Regions from separate parts of the Homo sapiens genome. Here region 1 is linked to region 2. Evidence: fine-mapped expression QTL. A gene starts in region 2. The other region holds a variant in brackets. All regions are shown on one strand. Distances are between the middles of the regions. Region 1 overlaps ZNF844 (zinc finger protein 844). Region 2 holds the start of ZNF20 (zinc finger protein 20).

Evidence for each region. PIP is the estimated chance that this variant, and not a neighbour inherited with it, causes the effect. A credible set is the group of variants that fine-mapping cannot tell apart.
Region 1: its variant is the best candidate, but not a certain one, in a credible set for the expression of ZNF20 in cerebellum (GTEx, PIP 0.51).

The regions. Positions count from the first base shown.
Region 1 is chr19:12,073,517-12,085,634 of GRCh38, forward strand. It overlaps ZNF844 (zinc finger protein 844), which reads left to right. Exons shown (of 4, transcript NM_001136501.3): 2 at 515-641; 3 at 845-905; 4 at 1,796-8,049. The coding sequence ends at 3,605. Among named protein-coding and RNA genes, the nearest start is that of ZNF844, 15 kb to the left of the region's middle. The variant C/T (reference allele first, on the strand shown) is at 5,048.
Region 2 is chr19:12,135,597-12,147,714 of GRCh38, forward strand. ZNF20 (zinc finger protein 20) reads right to left here and starts at 4,754. Exons shown (of 4, transcript NM_021143.4): 1 at 4,584-4,754; 2 at 173-308. The coding sequence starts at 4,586. ZNF625 (zinc finger protein 625) reads right to left here. Exons shown (of 4, transcript NM_145233.4): 2 at 12,080-12,118; 3 at 11,799-11,859; 4 at 9,294-10,628. The coding sequence ends at 9,701. ZNF625-ZNF20 (ZNF625-ZNF20 readthrough (NMD candidate)) reads right to left here. Exons shown (of 8, transcript NR_037802.1): 2 at 12,080-12,118; 3 at 11,799-11,859; 4 at 7,045-7,119; 5 at 4,584-4,729; 6 at 173-308. It also overlaps the pseudogene RPL17P47. RefSeq lists silencers at 2,523-2,625, 4,331-4,540.

The sequences.
Region 1 (12,118 bases), 62 kb before region 2:
TCTTATCAGTTGGGTTGGTTGAACCCCTTGCAAAATCCAGTTTTTTTTTTTTGCTTTTGTTGTCTGCTGCTTCAATCAGAATAAAATCCCCCTTCCAGGTAATCTTCAATGGTTAAACTTTGTGAACAGGCATTTTCAAGGATATATAGCCTCAGGACTGCTAATGTTAACATTTTCTGCAGGTGAATTTAGAGGACTGTGTTATGACAGGTGCTATAGACCCATGCTACAAACAGACATTAAGAGCAGCCCAGGCAGCGCACCTTTCTCCCTGGATTCCATGAAAAGACACATTTTTCTATTCTGCTGTTCGTTTATTGCTTAGTTCTGTTCCAGCATCAGAATTGCTTTAGAGAAGAAAGTAAGTGTAGACAGAGAGTAATGGGTCAGATGACCAAGAAATAGAATAAATGTTTGGAGTCCACAGCATCATGGGAACTTCTTAGGAAGAGGGTATAGACCCCCAGTGCTGTCAGTCTCACCCATCCTCCTCTATACATGTGGGATGTTTCAGGACTTGGTGGCTTTCGAGGATGTGGCTGTGAACTTCACCCAGGAGGAGTGGTCTTTGCTGGATCCTTCCCAGAAGAATCTCTACAGAGAAGTGATGCAGGAAACCTTGAGGAATCTGGCCTCCATAGGTAAGAATGACAGTATTACGTCCCCCAGTGAATGAGACAAGTGTTTCTAGCTCATTAATGCTATTCCTTGATTTGGAATATGGACAGGCAATACTTTGATGAATAAATGAGGTATGGCTCTAATGTCCCGTGAACATAGAATCTAATCATTTTTTCATAATTTTATTTTAATTCAGGATTCTTTTTCTGATTCTGTATTTTAGGAGAAAAATGGAAAGACCAGAACATTGAAGATCAGTACAAAAATCCCAGGAATAATCTAAGGTGATTTAAACTCACGAGACAAAGCAATGTCTCTCTAGAAAATCTCAGAATGCGAGAATATGTTAAGAAGAAGCAAATAAAGGAAATATGCCTAGCATTAAATTTATTTACTCTTAAAATATTCACTCTAAAAACCTACATTTAAATGTGATCTAGGCTGGGCACAGTGGCTCACACCTGTAATTTCAACTGTTTGGGAGTTGGAGGTGGGAGGATTGCTAGAGGCCTGGAGTTTGAGAAGAGCCTGAGCAAAATGGCGAGACTTCATCTCAAACAAAGAACTAGCTATACATTGTGGCATATACCTGTAGTCCTAGCTACATCGAAGGCTGAGGCAGGAAGATCACTTGAGTCCAGGAGTTCAAGGGTGCTGTGAACCATGATGATGCCACTGCACTCCAGCCTGGGCTATATGGTGACCCTGACTCAAGAAAATGATATAGAAGTTTAGTATTTGTAAAATAGTCTACATGGAAATATTATGAAGAATTCTCATATGGTGTTTTTCTTTTTTAAACATATGATTTTTAAAAATAATACGTATAGATAGGCCATCTTATAGCCATATGGTCCAGTCACCTTCCAACAATTTAGACAGGGTAGAAAGCCTACACTTTCCTGGATAATGTTGAAAGTGCAAGTTCAGTGGGGAGGGATAGCATTAGGAGATATACCTAATGCTAAATGACGAGTTAATGGGTGCAGCACACCAAATGGGACATGTATACATATGTAACAAACCTGCACGTTGTGCACATGTACCCTAAAACTTAAAGTATATTAATAATAAAATAAAATAAAATAAAATAAAATGCAAGTGTAATCCTTGTTAATAAACATCAAATCACTTATAAACAAACCTTCAATAATGTGTTTCTCATTTTTCACAGAAGTCTTCTGGGAGAGAGAGTTGATGAAAATACAGAAGAAAATCATTGTGGAGAAACTTCTAGCCAGATTCCAGATGACACACTGAACAAAAAAACTTCTCCTGGAGTAAAATCATGTGAAAGCAGTGTGTGTGGAGAAGTCTTCGTGGGTCATTCTTCCCTTAATAGGCACATTAGAGCTGACACTGCACACAAGCCGTCTGAGTATCAGGAATATGGACAGGAGCCATATAAGTGTCAACAACGTAAGAAAGCCTTCAGATGTCACCCCTCCTTTCAAATGCAAGAAAAGGCTCACACTGGAGAAAAACTCTATGATTGTAAAGAATGTGGAAAAACCTTCATATCCCATTCAAGCATTCAAAGACACATGATAATGCACAATGGAGATGGAACTTATAAATGTAAGTTTTGTGGGAAAGCCTGCCCTTGTCTCAGCATATATCTTATACATGAACGAGTTCACACTGGAGAGAAACCATATAAATGTAAACAATGTGGTAAAGCCTTTAGTTATTCAACTTCCCTTCAAATACATGAAAGAACTCACACTGGAGAGAAGCCTTATGAATGTAAGGAATGTGGGAAAGCATTCGGTAGTCCCAATTCCCTTTATGAACATAGAAGAACTCACACTGGAGAGAAGCCATATGAATGCAAACAATGTGGAAAAGCCTTCAGATGGTTCCATTCCTTTCAAATACATGAAAGAACTCACAGTGAGGAGAAGGCTTATGAATGTACCAAATGTGGGAAAGCATTCAAGTGTCCCAGTTATCTTTGTAGACATGAAGTGACCCACTCTGGGAAAAAGCCCTGTGAATGTAAACAATGTGGGAAAGCATTATCTTATCTTAACTTTCAAAGACACATGAAAATGCACACTAGAATGAGACCTTATAAATGTAAGACTGTGGAAAAGCCTTTGATTCTCCCAGTTCGTTTTGAAGACATGAAAGAACTCACACTGGAGAGAAACCTTATGAATGCAAGCACTGTGGTAAAGCCTTCAATCGTTCCAGTTCCTTTCACTATCATGAAAGGACTCACACTGGAGAGAAACCCTATGAATGTAAGCAGTGTAGTAAAGCCTTCATTTCTTCCACTTCCTTTCGATATCATGAAAGGACTCACACTGGAGAGAAACCGTATGAGTGTAAGCAATGTGGGAAAGCCTTCAGATCTGCCTCACACCTTCAAATGCATGGAAGGACTCACACTCAAGAGAAACCCTATGAATGTAAGCAGTGTGGTAAAGCCTTCATTTTTTCCACTTCCTTTCGATATCATGAAAGGACTCACACTGGAGAGAAACCCTATGAGTGTAAGCAATGTGGGAAAGCCTTCACATCTGCCTCACACCTTCAAATGCATGAAAGGACTCACACTGGAAAGCAACTGTATGAATCTAAACAATGTGAAAAAACCTTTGGATCTGTCAGAAACCTTCAAATTCATGAAAAGACACACCCTGGAGAGAAACCCTATAAGGAATATGGAAAAGCATTCAACAATTTCTCTTCCTTTCAAATACATGCAACAATGCACAGAGGACAGAATGCCTATGAATGTAAAGAGTGTGACAAAGCATTCATATCTGCCAAGATCCTTCGAGTACATGCAAGAACACACCCTGGAGAGAAACCCTATGAATGTAAGGAATGCGGAAAAGCGTTCAATTATTTTTCTTCTTTGCGTATACACAAAAGGATGCACACTGGAGAGAAACCATATTAATGTAAGGATTGTGGGAAAGCATTCAGTTTGCCTGGTTCCTTTCGTAGACATAAAAGGGCTCACACTGGAGTGAAACCGTATGAATGCAAGGAATGTGGCAAAGCCTTCACTTCTTCTGGTTCCTTTCAGTGTCATAAAAGGATTCACACTGGAGAGAAACCCTATGAGTGTAAGCAGTGTGGTAAAGCCTTCATTTCTTCCACTGCCATTCGTAGACATGAAAGGACTCACACTGGAGAGAAACCCTATGAGTGTAAGCAATGTGGAAAAGCCTTTATTTCTTTCAGTTCCATTCAGTACCATGAAAGGACTCACACTGGAGAGAAACAGTATGAGTGTAAGCAGTGTGGTAAAGCCTTCATGTCTTCTACTGCATTTCAGTATCATGAAAAGACCCACACCAGAGAGAAACACTATGAATGTAAGCAGTGTGGGAAAGCCTTCATTTCTTCCGGTAGCCTTCGATATCATGAAAGGACTCACACTGGAGAGAAACCCTATGAATGTAAGCAGTGTGGTAAAGCCTTCAGATCTGCCACTCAACTTCAGATGCATAGAAAGATTCACACTGGCGAGAAACCCTATGAATGTAAGCAATGTGGGAAAGCCTACAGATCTGTCTCACAACTTCTGGTGCATGAAAGGACTCACACTGTAGAGCAACCCTATGAATATAAGCAATATGGGAAAGCCTTCAGATTTGCTAAGAACCTTCAAATACAGACAATGAATGTAAACAATTAAATGTTTATAGCAGCTGCATACTAACATGTTATTCTGTATTTTTTTTTTCTTTTTGAGACAGAGTCTCGCTCTGTCACCCAGGCTGGAGTGCAGTGGCGTGATCTCAGCTCACTGCAAGCTCCACCTCCTGGGTTCACGCCATTCTCCTGCCTCAGTCTCCTGAGTAGCTGGGACTACAGGTGCCTGCCACCACACCCGGCTGATTTTTTGTATTTTTTAGTAGAGACGGAGTTTCATCGTGTTAGCCAGGATGGTCTCAATCTCCTGACCTCGTGATCTGCCCGCCTCAGTCTCCCAAAGTGCTGGGATTACAGGTATGAGCCACCGTGCCCGGCCGTTATTCTCTATTTTTTGTTGTTGTTTGAGATGAGTCTTGTTCTGTTGCCCAGGCTGGAGTGCAGTGGCATGATCTCGCCTCCGGGTTCAAGCAATTCTCCTGCCTCAGGCTCCTGAGGAAAAAGATTCCTAGGATTACAGGTGTGCACCACCACACTTGGCTAATTTTTATATTTTTAGTAGAGATGAGGTCTCACCCTATTGGCCACACTGGTCTTGAACTCCTGACCTGAAGTGATCCACCTGCCTTAGCCTCCCAAAGTGCTGGGATGACAGGCATGAGCCACTGCACCCAGCTGTTATTCTCTATTTAATTAATTGAGAAGCCATAATAAAATATCTCAGTGCCATCATGCATTAGATCAAGTTTATGTTACCACATTATTTTTTGGACATTGTGAGTCAATATTACCAAGTGGACAAAATCCCAGGCAT[C/T]TTTTTCCTCATGTAAATTTTAATTTTCATGCTTATATACTTAGAACATTTATCTTGGTCCTAATTTTTTGTTCATTCATAATACCAAAAGTTATCTCATGTTCTTCAGAGTGACTTTGTGCCATATCCCACAGTGGCATACCTGTCTTCAAAGAGGGTATAATTCACAAAAGGACTTACACTAGAGGAAAACCCTATGAATGTAAGCTGCGTGGGAAAGCATTTTCTGATCTGAGTGGCATTGAAACCCACATGGTATTGCACATGACAGATAGGCCTCTCTCCCCGTTCATTTCTTTTTTTTTGAGACGGAGTCTTGCTCTGTCGCTGAGGCTGAGAACAGTGGTTCCATCTCTGTTCACTGCCACCTCCACCTCCTGGGTTCAAGTGATTCTCCTGCCCCAGCCTCCCAAGTAGCTGGGATTACAGGTGACCGCCACCACGCCCAGCTAATTTTTGTATTTTTAGTAGAGACGGGGCTTCACTATGTTGGCCAGGTTCGTCTCGAACTCCTGACCTCAGGTGATCCACCTGCCTCAGCCTCCCAAAGTGCTGTGCATACAGGCATGAGCCACTGCACCCGGCCTTCTCCCCATTCATTTTCAAAGACATAAAAGGATGCACAATAAAGAGAGACCCTCTGAATGCAAGCAATATGGAAAAGCATTCCATTGTATCAGATCCTTTTGTAGCCATGAAAGAACTCGCTGAAGAGAAACCCTGTAAATGAAGGGAATGTGAAAAGCCTTCATTCCTGAAATGAAGCAATTCATACTATTAATATATGAGAGAAATCCTATTATAAGAAATTGATTGCTGTGCACGGTAGCTTACCTGTAATTCCAGCACTTCCAGAGGCTAAGGCAGGTGGATCACTTGAGGTCAGGAGTTCAATACCAGCCTGGGCAACATAGTGAAACCCTGTCTCTACCAAAAATACAAAAATTAGCCAGGCATGGTGGCGCGTGCCTGTAGTCCCAGCTACTCAGGAGGCTGAGGCAGGAGAATCACTTGAACCCAGGAGCTGGATGTTGCAGTGACCCGAGATTACGCCACTGTACCCCAGCAGAGTGAGACTCCATCTGAAAAAAAAAGCAAGGGGCCGGCACGGTGGTTCACGCCTGTAATCCCAGCACTTTGGGAGACCAAGGCAGGCAGATCACCTGAGGTCAGGAGTTCGAGACCAGCCTGGCTAACATGGCAAAACCCCATCGCTACTAAAAATACAAAAAATTAGATGGGCATGGTGGCACATGCCTGTAATCCCAGCTACATGGGAGACTGAGGCAGGAGAATTGCTTGAACCTGGGAGGCGGAGGTTGCAGTGAGCCAAGATCACAGCATTGCACTTCAGCCTGGGCAACAAGAGTGAAACTCCATCTCAAAAAAAAAAAAAAAAAAAATTGAGGAAGCATTCAGTTGTCCCACTTCCTTTCAAACAGGAAGAGACACTAGAGAGAAACCCTCTGAGATAACTGACTGTTGAATTAAGAAGAGAGGCCTGGCCGGACACAGTGGCTCACGCCTGTAATCCCAGCACTTTGGGAGGCTGAGGTGGGCGGATCACGAGGTCAGGAGATCAAGACCATCCTGGCTGACACGGTGAAACCCCGTCTCTACTAAAAAATACAAAAAAACTAGCTGGGCGTGGTGGTGGGCGCCTGTAGTCCCAGCTACTCGGGAGGCTGAAGCAGGAGAATGGCGTGAATCCAGGAGGCAGAGCTTGCAGTGAACCGAGATCGCGCCACTGCACTCCAGCGGCGACAGAGCAAGACTCCGTCTCAAAAAAAAAAAAAAAAAAAAGAGAAGTCTGACAGGACAATAAAATTTAGAAATGGAGTTGGAGGATGTCATAATACAATTCACCAGTGTCCTATCTTACATGCAATTTCAAAGGCAGACAAGAGGAAGTCATCAGTCACATTTTAGAGGCACCAAACAGGTGCCACATCCATACAGGCTGACTCCCTGCTCCCAGCCCATTTTTTCCTGAATCTTTGGCTTGCCAATCAAGAATGTCCTCAAAATTTGCTCAGAGGTGTGGGCCTTTGGGTAAAGGTGTCTTCAGAAGCTCCACATTAAAGATCCATCAGTGGTTAAGGGCAAATTGAAGAGAAATAAAGACTAAGATATTTTTTTAAAAGACTGAAAGAATAGAACAATGAAAAAGCCCCATCTGTAATACAGTTTTTCTTTTTCTTTTTTTTTGAGACAAGGTCTCTCTCTGTCACCCAGGCTGGAGTAGAGTGGCATTATCCTGGCTCATTGCAATCTGGGCCTCCTGGTTTCAAGTGATTCTGGTGTCTCAGCCACCTGAGTAGTCAGGATTACAGGTGCACACCACCACGCATGGCTAAATTTTTGTATTTTTAGTAGAGATGGGGTTTCACCATGTTGAGCAAGCTGGTCTTAAACTCCTGACCTCAAGTGATCCGTCTGTCTTGGCCTTTCAAAATGCTGGGATTATAGGCGTGATCCACTGTGCCTGGCCTGGTGTTTCTTTAGGTATAATGTCTTTACCAGAGAGCTAATGCAGACTGTCATGGGTGAGATTGTTCTCTGATGTTCAATTCCCCTACTTTGTATATTGAGTCAGTATGAGATGCGATTTGTTTGGCAAGCACCTTTGTTCCTGCTGTTACTGACCCTTATCTTGTAGCCTCACAGCTACTATGCTTTTGTCCAGTCCAACTAGATAGGAGCTTCTTCCTCTGCTGCAGTGACTGGTCTCACCCAGGGCTTTCAGGAAGGTGAGAATAAGCACCTTCCTCCTCCCAGGAAGTTTTGAGTTTCCTGTGTTTCATTTCTGAATGTAATGTCTCCATTTATTTTCAATTATGTTTGATTATATTTGATTAAAAACAATAATTTTTTTGGCAACCAAGATTTCTGTACATGTGTCATAGAAATAGTTGAACTTTTCCACAACTGTATACTGACAAACATTATTCTTTCTTAATTAATTCAGTAGCTATATTAAAATATGTATTAGATCAAGTTCATAATGTTGCCAAGTTATTGGTTGGACATTGTGAGTCAATATTACCATGTGAATAGAATGCCAGGCATGCTTTTTCTCATGTAAAAAAATTTTACTTTTTATACTCACTTATATCCTTAAATTTTTTTGTTGTTTGTTTGTTTGTTTTTTTTGAGACGGAGTCTCACTCTGTCGCCCAGGCTGGAGTGCAGTGGCATGATCTCGGCTCACTGCAAGCTCTGCCTCCCGGGTTCACGCCATTCTCCTGCCTCAGCCTCCCAAGTAGCTGGGACTACAGTTGCCTGCCACCACGCCCGGCTAATTTTTTTGTATATTTTTTTTAGTAGAGACAGGGTTTCACCGTGTTAGCCAGGAAGGTCTCAATCTCCTGACCTTGTGATCCACCCACCTCGCCCTCCCAAAGTGCTGGGATTACAGGCGTGAGCTACCGCGCCTGGCTATCCTTAAATTTTTTATCTTAGTCCTAACTTTTCTTTTTTTCTTTTTCTTTTTCTTTTTTTTTTTTTTTGAGACGCAGTCTCGCTCTGTCGCGCAGGCTTGAGTGCAGTGGTGCGATCTCCACTCACTGCAACCTCTGCCTCCTGGGTTCAAGCGATTCTCCTGCCTCAGCCTCCCAAGTAGCTGGGGTGACAGGCGCCGGTCACCACACCCGGCTAATTTTTGTATTTTTAGTAGAGATGGGGTTTCACCATGTTGGTCAGGCTGGTTTAGAATTCTTGACCTTGTGACCCACCTGCCTTAGCCTCCCAAAGTGCTGGGATTACATGGGTAAGCCACCACGCCCAGCCTCTTAGTCCTAACTTTTCATTCATTCATTGTACCAAAAGTTAACTCAATGTTCTCAGTGACGTCTTGCCAAAGACCACCAGTACCATACTTGTTGTCAAAGAGGGTGTAATATAGTAATAAATATGATCAAAAGCCATAAATGACAGTGAGATATATGAGAATTACAAATGAGTCACATTACTGAAAAAAATTTGCTCAGTTTGATAATTTGAAATATGTTTTCTTCTATACTATTTTGAGACATGGTTACAGAGTGTCCTTGTTTTGTCTTGATCCGTCATGGTCACTGAAGAGCATTGTCTCACATTGCAGGTGTATGACATGTGTCTTTCCAATGGCATAAGACTTGGCCTTGTGGCCGGGCGTGGTGGCTCATGCCTATAATCCCAGCACTTTGGAAGGCTGAGGCGGGTGGATCACCTGAGGTTGGGAGTTCGAGACCAGTCTGACCAACATGGAAAAACCCCGTCTCTACTGAAAACGCAAAAATTAGTCGGGTATAGTGGCACATGCCTGTAATCCCAGCTACTTGGGAGGCTGAGGCAGAAGAATCACTTGAACCCAAGAGGTGGAGGTTGCAGTGAACTGAGGTCACGCCATTGCACTCCAGACTGGGTAACAAGAGCAAAACACCGTCTCAAAAAGCAAACAAAGAAAAGACTTGGCCTTGTGGTGAGAGGAGGTAGCTCCTGGACTTCTAGACCCATTTTTGCCTTATCTTTTTTTTTTTTTTTTTTGAACTACTGAGCAGCTGGGATTACAGGCACTCGCCACTACACCCAGCTAACTTTTATATTTTTAGTAAAGACAGGGTTTCACTATGTTGGTCAGGCTGGTCTTAGACTCCTGACCTCAGGTAATCCACTCACCTCAGCCTCCCGAAGTGGTGGGATTACAGGCGTGAGCCACCACGCCTGGCCAAAAAATATGCATATTTTAAATATGCATATTTTATTTTTGTATTTTTTCATGAAGGAAGGTCAAATAACAAAACAGGAAAAATCCTTTTTAAGATAAGTGAACTTTAAATTTTCCTCAAAAAAACTTATAATTCACACCTGACCCAACATTTCATCATCCAGTTTTTGTTTTGTTTTGTTTTTTTGAGATGGAGTTTCGCTTTTGTTGCCCAGGCTGGAGTGCAATGCCACGATGTTGGCTCACCACAACCTCCACCTCCCACGTTCAAGCGATTCTCTTGCATCAGCCTCCTGAGTAGCTGGGATAACATGTCTGTACCACCACACCTGGCTAATTTTGTATTTTTAGTAGAGATGAGGTTTCACCATGTTGGTCAGGCTGGTCTCAAATTCCCAACCTCAAGTAATCCGCCCACTTCAGCCTCCCAAAGTGCTGGGATTACAGGCATGAGCCATCGTGCCCAGCCTATCATCCAGTTTGTTTGCAGTATCACAATGTTTTATTCAGAAACATTTACTAAATTTGGGCCAGACACGGTGGTTGTTCAGGCTAGGGTATAATGGTGGGATCATAGCTCACTGCATCCTTAACTCTTGGGCTCAAGTGATTCTCTCGCCTCAGCCTCCAACATATGTGGGACTACAAGCATACACCACCATGCCCAGGTAACTGTTTTGTTTTTTTTTTTAAGATGGAGTCTACACTGGCACAGTCTCTGCTCACTGCAACCTCCACCTTCTGGATTCAAGCGATTCTCCTGCCTCAGCCTCCCAAGTAGCTGGGATTACAGGAAGCTGCCACGCCACCATGCCTGGCTCATTTTTGTATTTTTAGTAGAGATGAGGTTTCACCATGTTGGCCAGGATGGTCTCAAACTCCTAGCTTCAAGTGATCCATCCACCTCGGCCTCCCAAATTACTGGGATTACAGGCGTGAGCCACCATGTCCTGCCAGATTTTAAAAATTTTCTGTGGAGATGTGATCTAACTGTGGTCCCAGGCTGCTCTTTAACTTTTAGCCTCAAGCAGGTCTCCTCCCTCAGCCTCACAGTGCTAGGATTATAGGCTTGAGCCATTTCAAACAGCCAAATTTAACTTTTATTGTGGTGTTGAAAGGAATTTTGTATGTACTTTCTTCTTTTTTTCTTTTTTTTTTTTTTTGAGACGGAGTCTGGCTCTCTCACCCAGGCTATAGTGCAGTGGTAAGATCTTGGCTCACTGCAGCCTCCATCTCCCAGGTTCATGTGATTCTCCTGCCTCAGCCTCCCAAGTAGCTGGGATACAGGTGGCCAACACGACACCTGGCTAATTTTTCTATTTTTAGTAAAGACATGGTTTCACCATGTTGGCCAGGCTGGTCTCGAACTCCTGACCTCAAGTGATACACCCATCTGGGCTTCACAAATTGTTGGGATTACTGGCATAAGCCACCACACCTGGCATTTGTATATGCCTTTCTTGTATTACTTTGACCATGGTAGGACATATACAATAGGCAAATGATATAAAAGGCCAAGGCGGGCAGATCACAAGGTCAGGAGTTCGAGACCAGCCTGGCCAATATGGTGAAACCCCGTCTCTACTAAAGATACAAAATTAGCCGGGCGTGGTGGTGGGCGCCTGTAATCCCAGCTACTCGGGAGGCTGAAGCAGGAGAAACCCTTGAACCTGGGAGGTAGAGGTTGCAGTGAGCCAAGATCATGCCGGTGCACTCCAGCTTGGGAGACAGAGCGAGACTCCATCTAAAAAAAAAAAAAGGTTAAATTTAATTTTTGACAATCACTTTAACACACAACTTAGGTTTATATGGAAAGAGAACTATGACCACTTGTGAACAAGTAACTGGTAAGTAAGATGGAATTATGGCTTCTGTGTGATACTCTATTGTTAGGCAAGCACAAGCTCCTTATAAAAGCCCTCATATATGTAAATGCATCAAATATCATGTGACTACTTGGTTTCCTAAGGACAGTTTATTATTCCTTTATCCCAGTATAATTTTGCATAGTCATCACTCTCTTTGTTATGGGTATCTATACTTAAAGAATAAATATATATGAGTTATCTACACATGAGCTAAATGAGGTTTTGTAAATTGAATGATATTTTTAGGAAAGTGTTGGACTTTGTCAATTACCATGCCTGATATCAATGTGTCTTACCTGACTATATCACTCCTAAAAATTTCACTGCGGGCCGTGGTCCCTGGATTTCCTGAGGGTTGATTGCCCATCCCCATTCCTGTAGACGAGCACACAATGGTATAAGACTTTCCTGTAACACATTACAGTCTTCAGAGGTTAACGTGATGTCATCAATATAATGAAACCAGGGCCAGGTCAGATGGCTCATGCCTGTAGT
Region 2 (12,118 bases):
TTAGTATGAATTTATTTAAAAATCATTAGATTCTGTATTCATGGTACATGGTAGCCATGCCTGATTTATTCATCAAAGTATTTTTTGTCCATGTTCCAAATCAATGAACAGCATTGATGAGCTAGAAGCATTTGTTCTCTAATTCACTGGGAAGTAATATTGTCATTCTTACCTACAGAGGTCAGGTTCTTGAAGGTTTCCTGCATCACATCCCTGTAGAGATTCTTCTGGGAAGGATCCAGCAAAGCCCACTCCTCCTGGGTGAAGCTGACAGCCACATCCTCAAAGGCCACTGAATCCTGAAACATCTCACATATATAAAAGAGGACAGGTAAGACTAACAGCCCTGGAGGCCTATACTTTATTCCTAAGAAGTTCTCATGATACTGTGGACTCCAAACATTTATCCCATGACTTGGTCATCACACCTCTTACTTTCTGTCTATACTCACGTCCTCCCACAAACCAACCCTTTTTTTGTTAAGAGAGAGGGTCTTTGGCCAGTCGCGGTGGCTCACGCCTGTAATCCCAGCACTTTGGGAGGCTGAGGCAGGCAGATCACTTGAGGTCAGGAGTTTGAGACCAGCCTGGCCAACATGGAGAAACCCGTCCCTACTAAAAATATAAAAATCAGCCAGGCGTGGTGGTGGGTGCCTGTAGTCCCAGCTACTCGGGAGGCTGAGGTAGGAGAATTACTTGAACCCAGGAGGTAGAGGTTACAGTGGGCCGAGATCGCGTCACTGCACTCCGGCCTGGGCGACAAAGCAATACTCCATCTCAAAAAAATAATAATAAAATAAATAGGCCAGGCGCAGTGGCTCATGCCTATAATCCCAGCACTTTGGGAGGCCAAGGTGGGCGGATCACCTGAGGTCGGGAGTTCGAAACCAGCCTGACCAACATGGAGAAACCCTGTCTCTATTAAAAAAAAAAATACACAATTAGCTGGGCATGTTGGCACATGCCTGTAATCCCAGCTACTTGGGAGGCTGAGGCAGGAGAATCACTTGAACCCGGGAGGCAGAGATTGCGGTGAGCTGAGATTGCACCATTGCACTCCAGCCTGGGCAACAAGAGTGAAACTCCGTCTCGAAAAAATAAAATAAAATAAAATAAATAAAATCTATACTAATCAAGAGAAAATGGTATTAACAGATGGAAAGATAGACTAATGGAAAACAGCAGATTCTGAAAATAGTGAAACCACGACAAAGCAGGTATCACCAGCCAATTATGCAAGTGGTCCTCACTTACCAGAAGGAACAGGGACAGATGGTTACCTACAGGAGAACAAACAATCTTTGAAGCCCATCATCTCCATATGAATTAATTCTAGAGTTGCCTGTTACCGTGACTTCTTATGTTACCTTACCATGCATTTTCATTATGGGTTTCACTTTCTTATAACAGAAGAAACCCGTACTCAAGCCGTGTGTAGTGGCTCATGCCTGTAATCCCAGCACTTTGGGAGGCCAAGGCAGGCCAATCACTTCAGGTGAGGAGTTCAAGACCAGTCTGGCCAACATGGTGAAACTCCCTCTCTACTAAAAAACACAAAAATTAGCCGGGTGTGTGCGTGCCTGTAATCCCAGCTACTCGGGAGGCTGAGGCAGGAGAATCGCTTGAACTCGGGAAGCGGCGGTTGCAGTGAGCTGAGAGAGCGCCACTTCACTCCAGCCTGGGCGACAGAAAGAGACTGTCTCAGAAAAAAAAAAAAAAAAGAAGAAGAAGAAAGCTGCACTTGACCTCAACAGTTTCCAGTTATCCACCTCCTCCCAGTTCCTGCATGTGCTCAACCCACATATGTGACTTACACAGCTGCCTCCTGGTGACGACCTCACTGTGGAAAAGCTAGACAGACCAACTTGACTTGCCCCACTGACCCTTATACCCACGTGGATGGCACAGACCACCTGTTAATCACAGCCTGACTTCACAGAACTAGCACCTGCTTGCTCCAAATCTATCAGAAACAACTCCCTAAGAGAAACCTCCTTGGGCATTGCCCTGGACCCCAAGAAAAACTCTGGCCCAAAAGTCCCTGTCTGTCTTTCTCCCCACCTGCTGGTTGAATGTGCATCCTGGATGTTCCCCCCACTCTGTGTTGCCCTGCAAGGTGTGCTGCCCTCATCTGTCTGGGATGTGATAATGCACTGTTATGTCATGGCTTTATGGCTTTGTTGAGATGACTCTGCTGTGGCTCACTTCACCTACACCTTTCCCTTAATAGCAACATCCAACTGGCTGACCAGCTATGTGTCTCCAAATAATGGAAGCTGGGACTGGGGGAGAAAAACTGAGCATCCCAAGGGGTTGGCTATCTAGATGAAGAGTGTACCAGGAGTCTCCTCCCATTTGGGAAATTCAGTTGCTCCTTTGGGAGATCCCACACCCTGCCTCAGGCTATCCTCTGGGAGGACTGACACAGGGGCTGATATTCAGTAGGCCAGGAGAGATGGGAGCTGTGGGCATTTTGGTTCAGCCCCAGGCGGTTCTGAAACCCAGGACCAGGAAAAGATAGATTGGGACTCCTGAAGACACATCACCCTGTAAAGTTTTCAAAAAGGAAACAGGCCAGGCACGGTGGCTCACGCCTGTAAAATTCCAGCACTTTGGGAGGCTGAGGCAGGCAGATCATTTGAGCTCAGGAGTTCGAGACCAGCCTGACCAACATGGTGAAACCCCATCTCTACTTAAAATACATGGGGTATGGTGGCGCATACCTGTAAACCCAGCTACTCGGGAGACTGAGGGCAGGAGAATCACCTGAACCTGGGAGGCGGAGGTTGCAGTGAGCCAAGACCACGCCACTTCAATTCAGCCTGGGTTACAAAGAGAGACTTTCTCTCAAAAAAAAAAAAAAAAAAGGAAACAACCCAAAGACATTCTGAGATGGTGTCTGTGCCTTACGAAGATAAGAGGAGAGGAACAGAGGTTTTTCACTGGAGTATCAAGTGGTTATTCTCTATTCTATGTGAAATGTTCAGAAACAGAACACAAATATTTTAAAAAAAGTTATCCATGACCTTGTGAAAAGATGATAAACCACTAAAATACTGCATCTATGTGAAAGAAAGGATGAAGAAATATACTCTACAATAAAGAAAGTTGATACAGGAGGCTGAGGCAGGAGAATCACTTGAACCCGGGAGGCAGAGGTTGCAATGAGCCAAGATCATGCCATTGCATTCCAGCCTGGGCAACAAGAGCGAAACTCCGTCTCAAAAAAAAAAGAAAGTTGATAATACTGTGAGTTGGAGAAGGGGAGTTAATGTTTGGAGATGCGGAAAAGTAATTGAAAATTTAAGATGTTACTGCAAACTGCTGAAGAGTTAGGGCGGGGTAGCAGGGTGGAGGATTTGAGACCCATACATTAGGAAAATGCAGGAGGAAGCCAGTCCCTATAGACAGTGTGAAAAAATTTAAAGCAGCAGCAATTAGACTGAAGTGTGTTTAGTGCTATAAGAAACTACCTAAGGACACCAAAATCAAACTCAAATTGAGGCAGGAAAATAGGGTCTGGACGCAGGGAACATAAGGCCTATTCAAACTTCAGCTATGAAAGGAAATACCTACTCCATAGGGCGTAAGCCAAGTAAATGATTTTATAACCTTACTTCATCCTCTCCTTTTACATAGAGTATACCCCAAGTAACCAATGGAATCCTCCAGGGGGTATTTAAACTCCCAAAAATTCTGTAACGGGGCCTTTGAGCCCCTGTGCTCAGCCCCGCTTGCACACTGTGGAGTGTTAAATCCCTTCATTCCTTCCTTGCTTTGTGCGTTTTGTCCAATTCTTTGTTCAAGACGCCAAGAACCTGGACCCCCTCCACCGTTAACAAAATGCAATTCTTCTTAAAACTTTCTGGTACCAAAACCACAAATCATGACTGGGCGTTTCTCACTCATGAATCGCTGTTTGCTCAAACTCTTTAAATTTTTTTTTTTTTTTGAGATGGAATCTCGCTCTGTCCCCTAGGTTGGAGTGCAGTGGCGTGATCTCGGCTCACTGCAACCTTCGTCTCCTGGGGTCATGCGATTCTCCTGCTTCAGCCTCCTGAGTAGCGGGGACTACAGGCGCATGCCACCATGCCCGGCTAATTTTTTGTATTTTTAGTAGAGACGGGGTTTCACTGTGTTAGCCTGGATGGTCTCGATCTCCTGACTTCGTGATCCGCAAGCCTCGGCCTCCCAAAGTGCTGGGATTACAAGCATGGTCCACCGCGCCCGGCCCAAACTCTTTAACAGAAAAAAAAATCCGCAGGATTCCCCCATGACCCTCCCGTGGTCCCCGCAAAATCTGAAGAGACGCGGGGCTGCAGGCGCGGAGCTGCCCAGAGAGGGCTCCAGGGTCGGGGCCCACAGTCGCCCGCGCAGGAACAGAACAGGAGGACGCCCGGGGTCCCGGCTGCCGGCCCAGCCGCACCCTGCGGCCGAGGGGACGCAGGGACGAGCTGAGACAGAGGGATTCGGGTCCCAGATCCAGGAGGCGCGGCGAGGAGGCCCAGATCCCACCACAGCCGCTTCCGGCCGGTTCCACCCAGCCCCTCCCCCGTCTGGGGACTCCGGCCCCATACACTCACCATTTCCCGGCTTCTGGGTGTCCCGGTGTCCTCTCTAGGGCTCCCGTGAATAGTGCGGGTCACGGTGCAGGCGGCAGAGCGACAGAAGTTGTGGCAGAGGGACCCGGGGCCTCTCGGAGTAGGAAATCTGGTATCCCGACAACAACCTGCATAGCAACAAAAGTAGAAGCTGGAATGGGCCTCCTCCTTCCGGACGGACCGTTGGCCGGGCTCCGCCCCGGCGCTTCTGATTGGACAAGGTACAAGGCCCCGCCCCCTCAGAACTGAGTGACGGCAGAAGCCCTGGGTAACGAGCCCTGCAAAGCCGGACTGATCGGTTCTAGCCACAGCTTCTCTCTAAGGGACAACTCCTTCCCTGAGCCCTGGTCATTGGATATTTTCTTTTCAGCCAAATTTGCTCCTGATTTTTACACAGGGCACTATCTTCTTCCTCATTCAATGGGCTGTCAGTGCTTCTTCGTCCTGCACAGGGTTGTAAGTGTGTGCAGGGAATTCCAGACTGAGTGTCCAATGGAGCGATGTGCTGACCTCAGAGCAGGAAGGGGAGCCCAGATCAGGCCAGGCACGACTGCACCAAGAAGGAGAGGCAGTTGTCCTTCAGGGGCCCGGAATTAGGGATGAGACATGGCCAAGGCTTTCACACATCTCACCCCACCTCACAGTGTGGAAACTCTCCCTCCTTCCAGACCTTCATCTTCATCGGCAGAAAACTCTCACTTGGTGATTTTAAGCTTCTGACCTAAATAAACTGTCAACTGCATAAGCCCCTTCTCCAGGAGAGGTCCCAAACAGTTATTTCCCTGAACTTGATCTTTACGGATTTTCTTCAGATATGCAAATTACAGTCTGACCCCAGGGACTCTATGCATGTCAAACCCAAAACACTGCTCCCGAAAACCGCCCCAGATTCCAGATGTACAGCCGCAGAAAGGACAGAACTCCTGAAGTGCACCTGCACGTGGGTCTCCTGCTTTCCAGGGCGCTGCAGCATGTCAGAACCCACACTCTTTCTGGATCTGCTCTGAGCAGCTGCAAGCCACCTGCAGGGGAGGGCGGCTGCCCAGGAAGCACCCAGAACTCCACTTCACTCCTTGGCAGGATCCATACTAGCCTCAGCGTCCCGTCCCTGGCGTCGGTCTCTGCTGCCCCCTGCAGGTTATTCACCTGCTTCTCACATCATTCATCAGTTTCCATGAGACAAACATCCTCAATCCCACTGCGAGAATAACACACGAGCAAAGCTCTCCTCCAGTGTGTATGTATAAAGTCGAGGAGGAAGTGTCCAAGATTATTTAACTGCATGAAAGTGAGGCAGTAGTGGCTGGGCGCTGTGGCTCAAGCCTGTAATCCCAGCACTTTGGGAGGGCGAGGTGGCTGGATCACCTGAGATCAGGAGTTGGAGACCAGCGTGACCAACATGGTGAAATCCCGTCTCTACTAAAAATACAAAAATTAGCCGGGTGTGGTAGAGCCCACCTGTAATCCCAGCTACTCGGGAGACTGAGGCAGAAGAATCGTTTGTATCAAAGAGGCTGAGGTTGCAGAGAGCCGAGATTGCACCACTGCACTACAGCCTGGGCAATAGAGCGAGACTCTGTCTCAAAACAAAACAAAAAAACACACAAATGTTTAGTCATGTTACTTATTTCTGGTTTCCAGCCTGACTTTATAACATTCCTGACTCTGGGACTCTCCAGCTCTCCAGAATTATGCTTTGAAGAAAAAACAAGATAGAGCACAGGGCCCACATGTCTCTTATAAACTGTGAACCAAAATATTACATAGCAGCCATCTGTCAGAACTGCTTCCAGGCTATTGTCCTCAGTCACAATCCTAAATCAAACTCACTTTCTTTAACAAATTTAATTTTTTTTCTTCAGTCCACATGAGTAATCTAAAAGAAACACATAGACAGAAGAATCTCTTTATTATCATCTTTCTACCAAGTCAACATCAAGCATTAAAAAAATGTAAAACAAAGTGAAAACCATCCTTCTCTGATTCATCGTAGACCCAGAATCTGCCAGTCACCAACACCTATCTTCATTTTCTCTATTACGGCCAACTTTTATCTAAGAGATATCATAGGGGCATATTTAATAGAGTTTGTCATTTTGTGTTTTATGAATTTTAGAGGTTTTTTTGTTTTGTTTTGTTTTGAACTTTTATTTGCATTTTCTTTTGGCTGAATTTGTTTGTCTCTTAAGTTTATGTTTCTTCTGGGGTATCTTTTTCTTCCGTGCATCCTCCTTTTCTGCTTTTGGAACAAGGTGTTTCTTTTCACTAAGCATCATCTGGATGTGGCAGGGGAGTTTGTGGATGGGTTCATCTGCCCATGAGTTCTGTAAGTCAGGTGGTACATTATGGGTGCCTTTTCCCTGGATGTGCTCAATAACCAGGGAATCTACATCTATACCCTTAAGTTCAGCATAACTCTGCACTTGTAAGCAAATTTCAGTACCTTTTCGGGGCCACTGATGGTGAGTCCAGCCCCAATGTCTGTCTTGCGTACAGCGACCAACTCCACTTTCTAAGACTGAAATGGTACACATAATTTCTGTAAAAGAAAATATTTCAGATACTTGGTGGCTTTTCATATAGGCATACCTGTGATGGCCTGAGCACCTTCACAGTTTACAGTGAACATGAGGGTTTCATCCTTCTAACATGCACGACTTCGTGGGATTTTCTGGGTCATAGTGAATAATGTTCATAGATCAACTCAGGCCACACAAGAGGACAGGTTTTCTTTGGTCTTTAAAAGGAACTGATTAAAGAAAAAAAAAAAAAAAAGGTGGAAGCCAGGCACAGCAGCTGGTACCTGTAGTGACAGCTACTTGGCAGGCTGAGGTAGAAGGATTGTGAGCCCAGGAATATGAAGCTCTCATGCACTAAGATCACACTTGTGAATATCACTGCACTCCAGCCGGGTCCAAACAGCAAGACCAACTCTCTAAAAAAAAATTACATAATAAAATAATTTAAAAAAAAGTTTGTGGTTAGAAAAAAGTTTTTATTTAAGACATTCATTAAAGAAAAAAGTACTTTGAGAAGAGATTAGGGCCAGGCGTGGTGCCTATAATCCCAGCACTTTGGGAGCCCAAGGTGGCAGATCATGAGGTCAAGAGATTGAGACCATCCTGGCCAACATGGTGAAACCCCATCTCTACTAAAAATACAAAAATTAGCTGGGCGTGGTGGCGCATGCCTGTAGTCCCAGCTACTCAGGAGGCTGAGGCAGGAGAATCTCTTGAACCTGGGAGGCGGAGGTTGCAGTGAGCCAAGATTGCACCACTGCACTCCAGCCTGGCCACAGAACAAGACTCTGTCTCAAAAAAAAAAAAAGATATTAGGCCTGGCGCAGTAGCTCACACCTGTAAGCCCAGCATTTTGGGAGGCTGAGGCAGGTGGGTCACTTGAGGTCAGGAGTTCAAGACCAGCTTGGCCAACATGGAGAAACCCGTCTCTACTAAAAATACAAAAATGGCCGGGCGCAGTGGCTAACGCCTGTAATCCCAGCACTTTGGGAGGCCAAGGCAGGTGGATCACCTGAGGTCAGAAGTTCGAGACCAGCCTGGTCAACATGGTGAAACCCTGTCTCTACTAAAAATACAAAAATTAGCTGGGTGTGGGGGCACACGCCTATAGTCCCAGCTACTCAGGAGGCTGAGAAAGGAGAATCGCTTGAACCTGGGAGTTGGAGGCTGCAGTGAGCCGACAGCACACCACTGCACTCCAACCTGGAGCAAGACTCTGTATCAAAAAAAAAAAAAAAAAAAATTTGAAGGCTGGAAAAAGATTAGAAGGCCGGGTGCAGTGGCTCACACCTGTAATCCCAGCACTTTGGGAGACACTGGTGTGGGTCACTTGAGGTCAGGAGTTTAAGACCAGTCTGACCAACATGGTGAAATCCTGTCTCTACTAAAAATATAAAAAATTAGCCTAGCGTGGTGGTGGGTGCCCGTAATCCCAGCTACCCGGGAAGCCAGGAGGTGGAAGTTGCACTGAGCCGAGCTCACACCAACACACTCCAGCCTGGGCAACAGAGTGAGACTCTGTCTCAAAAAAAAAAAAAAAAAAAAAAAAAAAAAAAAAAAAGAGTTTAGAGGCTGGGCATGGTGGCTCATGCCTGTAAAGCCAGCTACTCGGGAGACTGAGGCAGAAGAATCGCTTGAACCCAGGAGGCAGAGGTTGCAGTGGGCTGAGAATGTGCAACTGCACTCCAGCCTGGGAGACAGAGCCCGACTCTGTCTCAAAAAAAAAAAAAAAGAAAACTCGTGAGAACGAATGGCATAAAATACGTAGTGTACCCGATAGCCAGCCATTTATTATAGGATATTTTTGAATAGGAACTTTAGCCTTTTGTTTTGATAAAGCTTTCTGAGGCAGTGAGTCTGACAATGGCACTTCCGTTATCCCTTTAGTGAGTTTCTTAAAATGAGGGCTTGCCACTTAGGTATTGGGCTTTCAATAGGAGGGAAAAGATTTTTCTGACCTTCCTGTATATATATACCTGCCACTTTGCTGGGCTAACCTTATTATTATTATTATTATTTTGAGACGGAGTCTCACTCTGTCACCCAGGCTGGAGTGCAGTGGCGCAATCTTAGCTCACTGCAACCTCCACCTCCTGTATTCAAGCAATTCTCCTGCCTCAGCCTCCTGAGTAGCTGGGACTACAGGCGCCACCACACCTGGCTAATTTTTGTATTTTTTAGTAGAGATGGGGTTTCACCATATTGACCAGGCTGGTCTCGAACTACTGACCTCGTGGTCCGCCTGCCTCGGCCTCCCAAAGTGCTGGGATTATAGGCATGAGCCACTGCACCCGGCCAAACCTCGTATTTTTTTTATGACAGAACTGTCTTAAGGTCTTACTGGAGGTGTGTCTCTCTTAAGAGTTATTTCCAACTCTGTGTCCTAGGTATCTGAGTGAGGCCCCAGCTAAACTACTCCCAAAAATTTTTGCTCCTGGGCTACTGGCATTTATTTCTGAATGCTGTCAAATGACAGTGACTGCAGAAGCTTCAGAATAATTTTGCGATGGTTCCCATGATTTGAGGGAAACACATTTTTACCATGATTGGATTCGGTGGCTTCTAGGAATCTTATGTGAATTAAGCAATCTTCTCGCCTTGGCCTTTCGAAGTGTTGGAGCTACAGGGTTTTTCTCCAGTGTGAGTCCTTTCATGGATTTTAACGCTCGAGGCACATCCAAAGGCTTTACCACATTGTTTACATTCATAGGGTTTCTCTCCAGTGTGAGTCCTTCCATGTGTTCGAAGGTGCGAGGCAGATCTGAAGGCTTTCCCACATTGCTTACATTCATAGGGCTTCTCTCCAGTGTGAGTTCTTTCATGATATCGAACGGAATTGAAAGAAACAAAGGCTTTCCCACACTGTTTACATTCATACGGCTTCTCCCCAGTGTGAGTTATTTTATGTGCATGGAGGCATGTGGAACTATGGAATGCTTTCCCACACTCACTGCATTCATAAGGCTTCTCTCCAGTGTGAGTTCTTTCATGTATTCGAAGGCTACCAGAATGACTAAAGGCTTTACCACACTGTTTACATTCATATGGTTTCTCTCCAGTGTGAGTTCGTTTGTGGATAAGATACAAACTGAGACACATCAAGGCTTTCCCACAAAAGTTACATTTGTAGGGTCCATCTCCACTGTGCATTATCCTGTGTCTTCGAATGCTTGAACGGGAAATAAAGCTTTTTCCACATTCCTCACAATCATAAGGTTTCCCCCCAGTGTGAGCCCATTCATGTGTTCGAAAGTAGGGGAGATCACTGAAGGCTTTCTTACAGTATGTACATTTATATGGCTTCTGTCCATATTCCTGATACTCATATGGCTTGTGTCCAGTGTCAGCTCTGTGGTGCCTATTAAGGGATGCATGACCCACGCTGACTTCTCCACATGATTTTACTCGGGGAGTTTTCTTCTTCAGCATGTCATCTGGAACCTGGGTCAAAATTTCTCCATGCTGATGATCTTTCTTACTTTCTAAGAGTCTCTCTCCCATAAGACCTCTGTGAACAATGAGAAGTATATCATAATGGGTTCCTTTATCACTGATTTGATATTCATTAACAAGTCATTGCACTTGTATTTCTAACACTGTACAGCAATGTGTAGGCTTTCTGCCCTGTCTGAACATGAACAGACCACACATGCTCTACAAGATGGCCCAGCTATACCTGTTATCAAGAAAGATAATATTGATATAGGGCTTCTTAGTACTTTTTAAACATTTTTTGAGATAGGGTCTCACTCTGTCATCCAGGCTGGAGTGCGGTGGTGAGATCTCAGCTCACTGCAACCTCCATCTCCCGATCTGAAGCCGTCCTGCCACTTCAGCCTCCTGATTACCTGAGGCTACAAGCATACCATCGTGCCTGGCTAATTTTTGTATATTTGCTAGAGATGGGGTTTTGTCACATTTCCCTGGCTGGTCTCAAACTCCTAGACTCAAGCAATCTGCCCACCTCAGCCTCTTAAAGCATTAGGATTACAGGCATACACCTGGGCGCCCGGCCAACACTATTTTCAGGTAAACTATTTTACAAGTACTAACTGTCTTTGTCAATTTTATTGCTTCTGAGTCAGGGTCTTGCCCTTTAACCCAGGCTAGAGTGTAATGGTGCTATCATGGCCGAGTGTAGCCTCAAACTCTTCAGCTCAAGCAATCTCTGACCTGAACCTCCCAAAGGGCTGGATTATAGGCTTAAGCCAGGATGTTCAGCCTATGTCACACTTAAATATATGTTTTTAGAGATTTTTTTTTTTTTTGAGACGGAGTCTCGCTCAGTCGCCCAGGATGGAGTGCAGTGGCATGATCTCGGCTCACTGCAATCTCTGCCTCCCGGGTTCATGCCATTCTCCTGCCTCAGCCTCCCAAGTAGCTGGGACTACAGGTGCCCGCCATCACGCCCGGCTAATTTTTTTGGATTTTTAGTAGAGACAGGGTTTCACCATGTTAGCCAGGATGGTTTCGATCTCCTGACCTCGTGATCCGCCTGCCTCAGCCTCCCAAAGTGCTGGGATTACAGGCGTGAGCCACCACAGCCGGCCCTAGAGAAAATTTTGTAAGAATAAATACAGTGGAACTTGGCTTATTTCTTGTTTGCTTCTTTTTAACATTTTCTTCCATTCTATGATTGTCTAGAGAGACATCACTTTCTCTTGTGAATGCGAATTACCTTAGGTTTCTCCTGGGATTTTTGTACTCATCTTCAATTTTCTGATCTTTCCATTTTTTTCCTAAAATACAGAACCAGAAAAATAGTCCTGAATTAGCAAAATTATGAAAAAAGTACTAGATTCTAAGTTCATGGTACACTGCAGCCTTGCAGCATTTATTCACATTCCTATTCCCTGTCCTCACTATTCCCTGTCCACACTCCAAATCACTCAACACTACTGACAAGCTAGAAACACTTGTTCTCTAATTCACTGAGGAAAGTAATATTGTTACCCTTACCTACAGAAGCCAGGTTCCTGAAGGTTTCCTGCATCACAT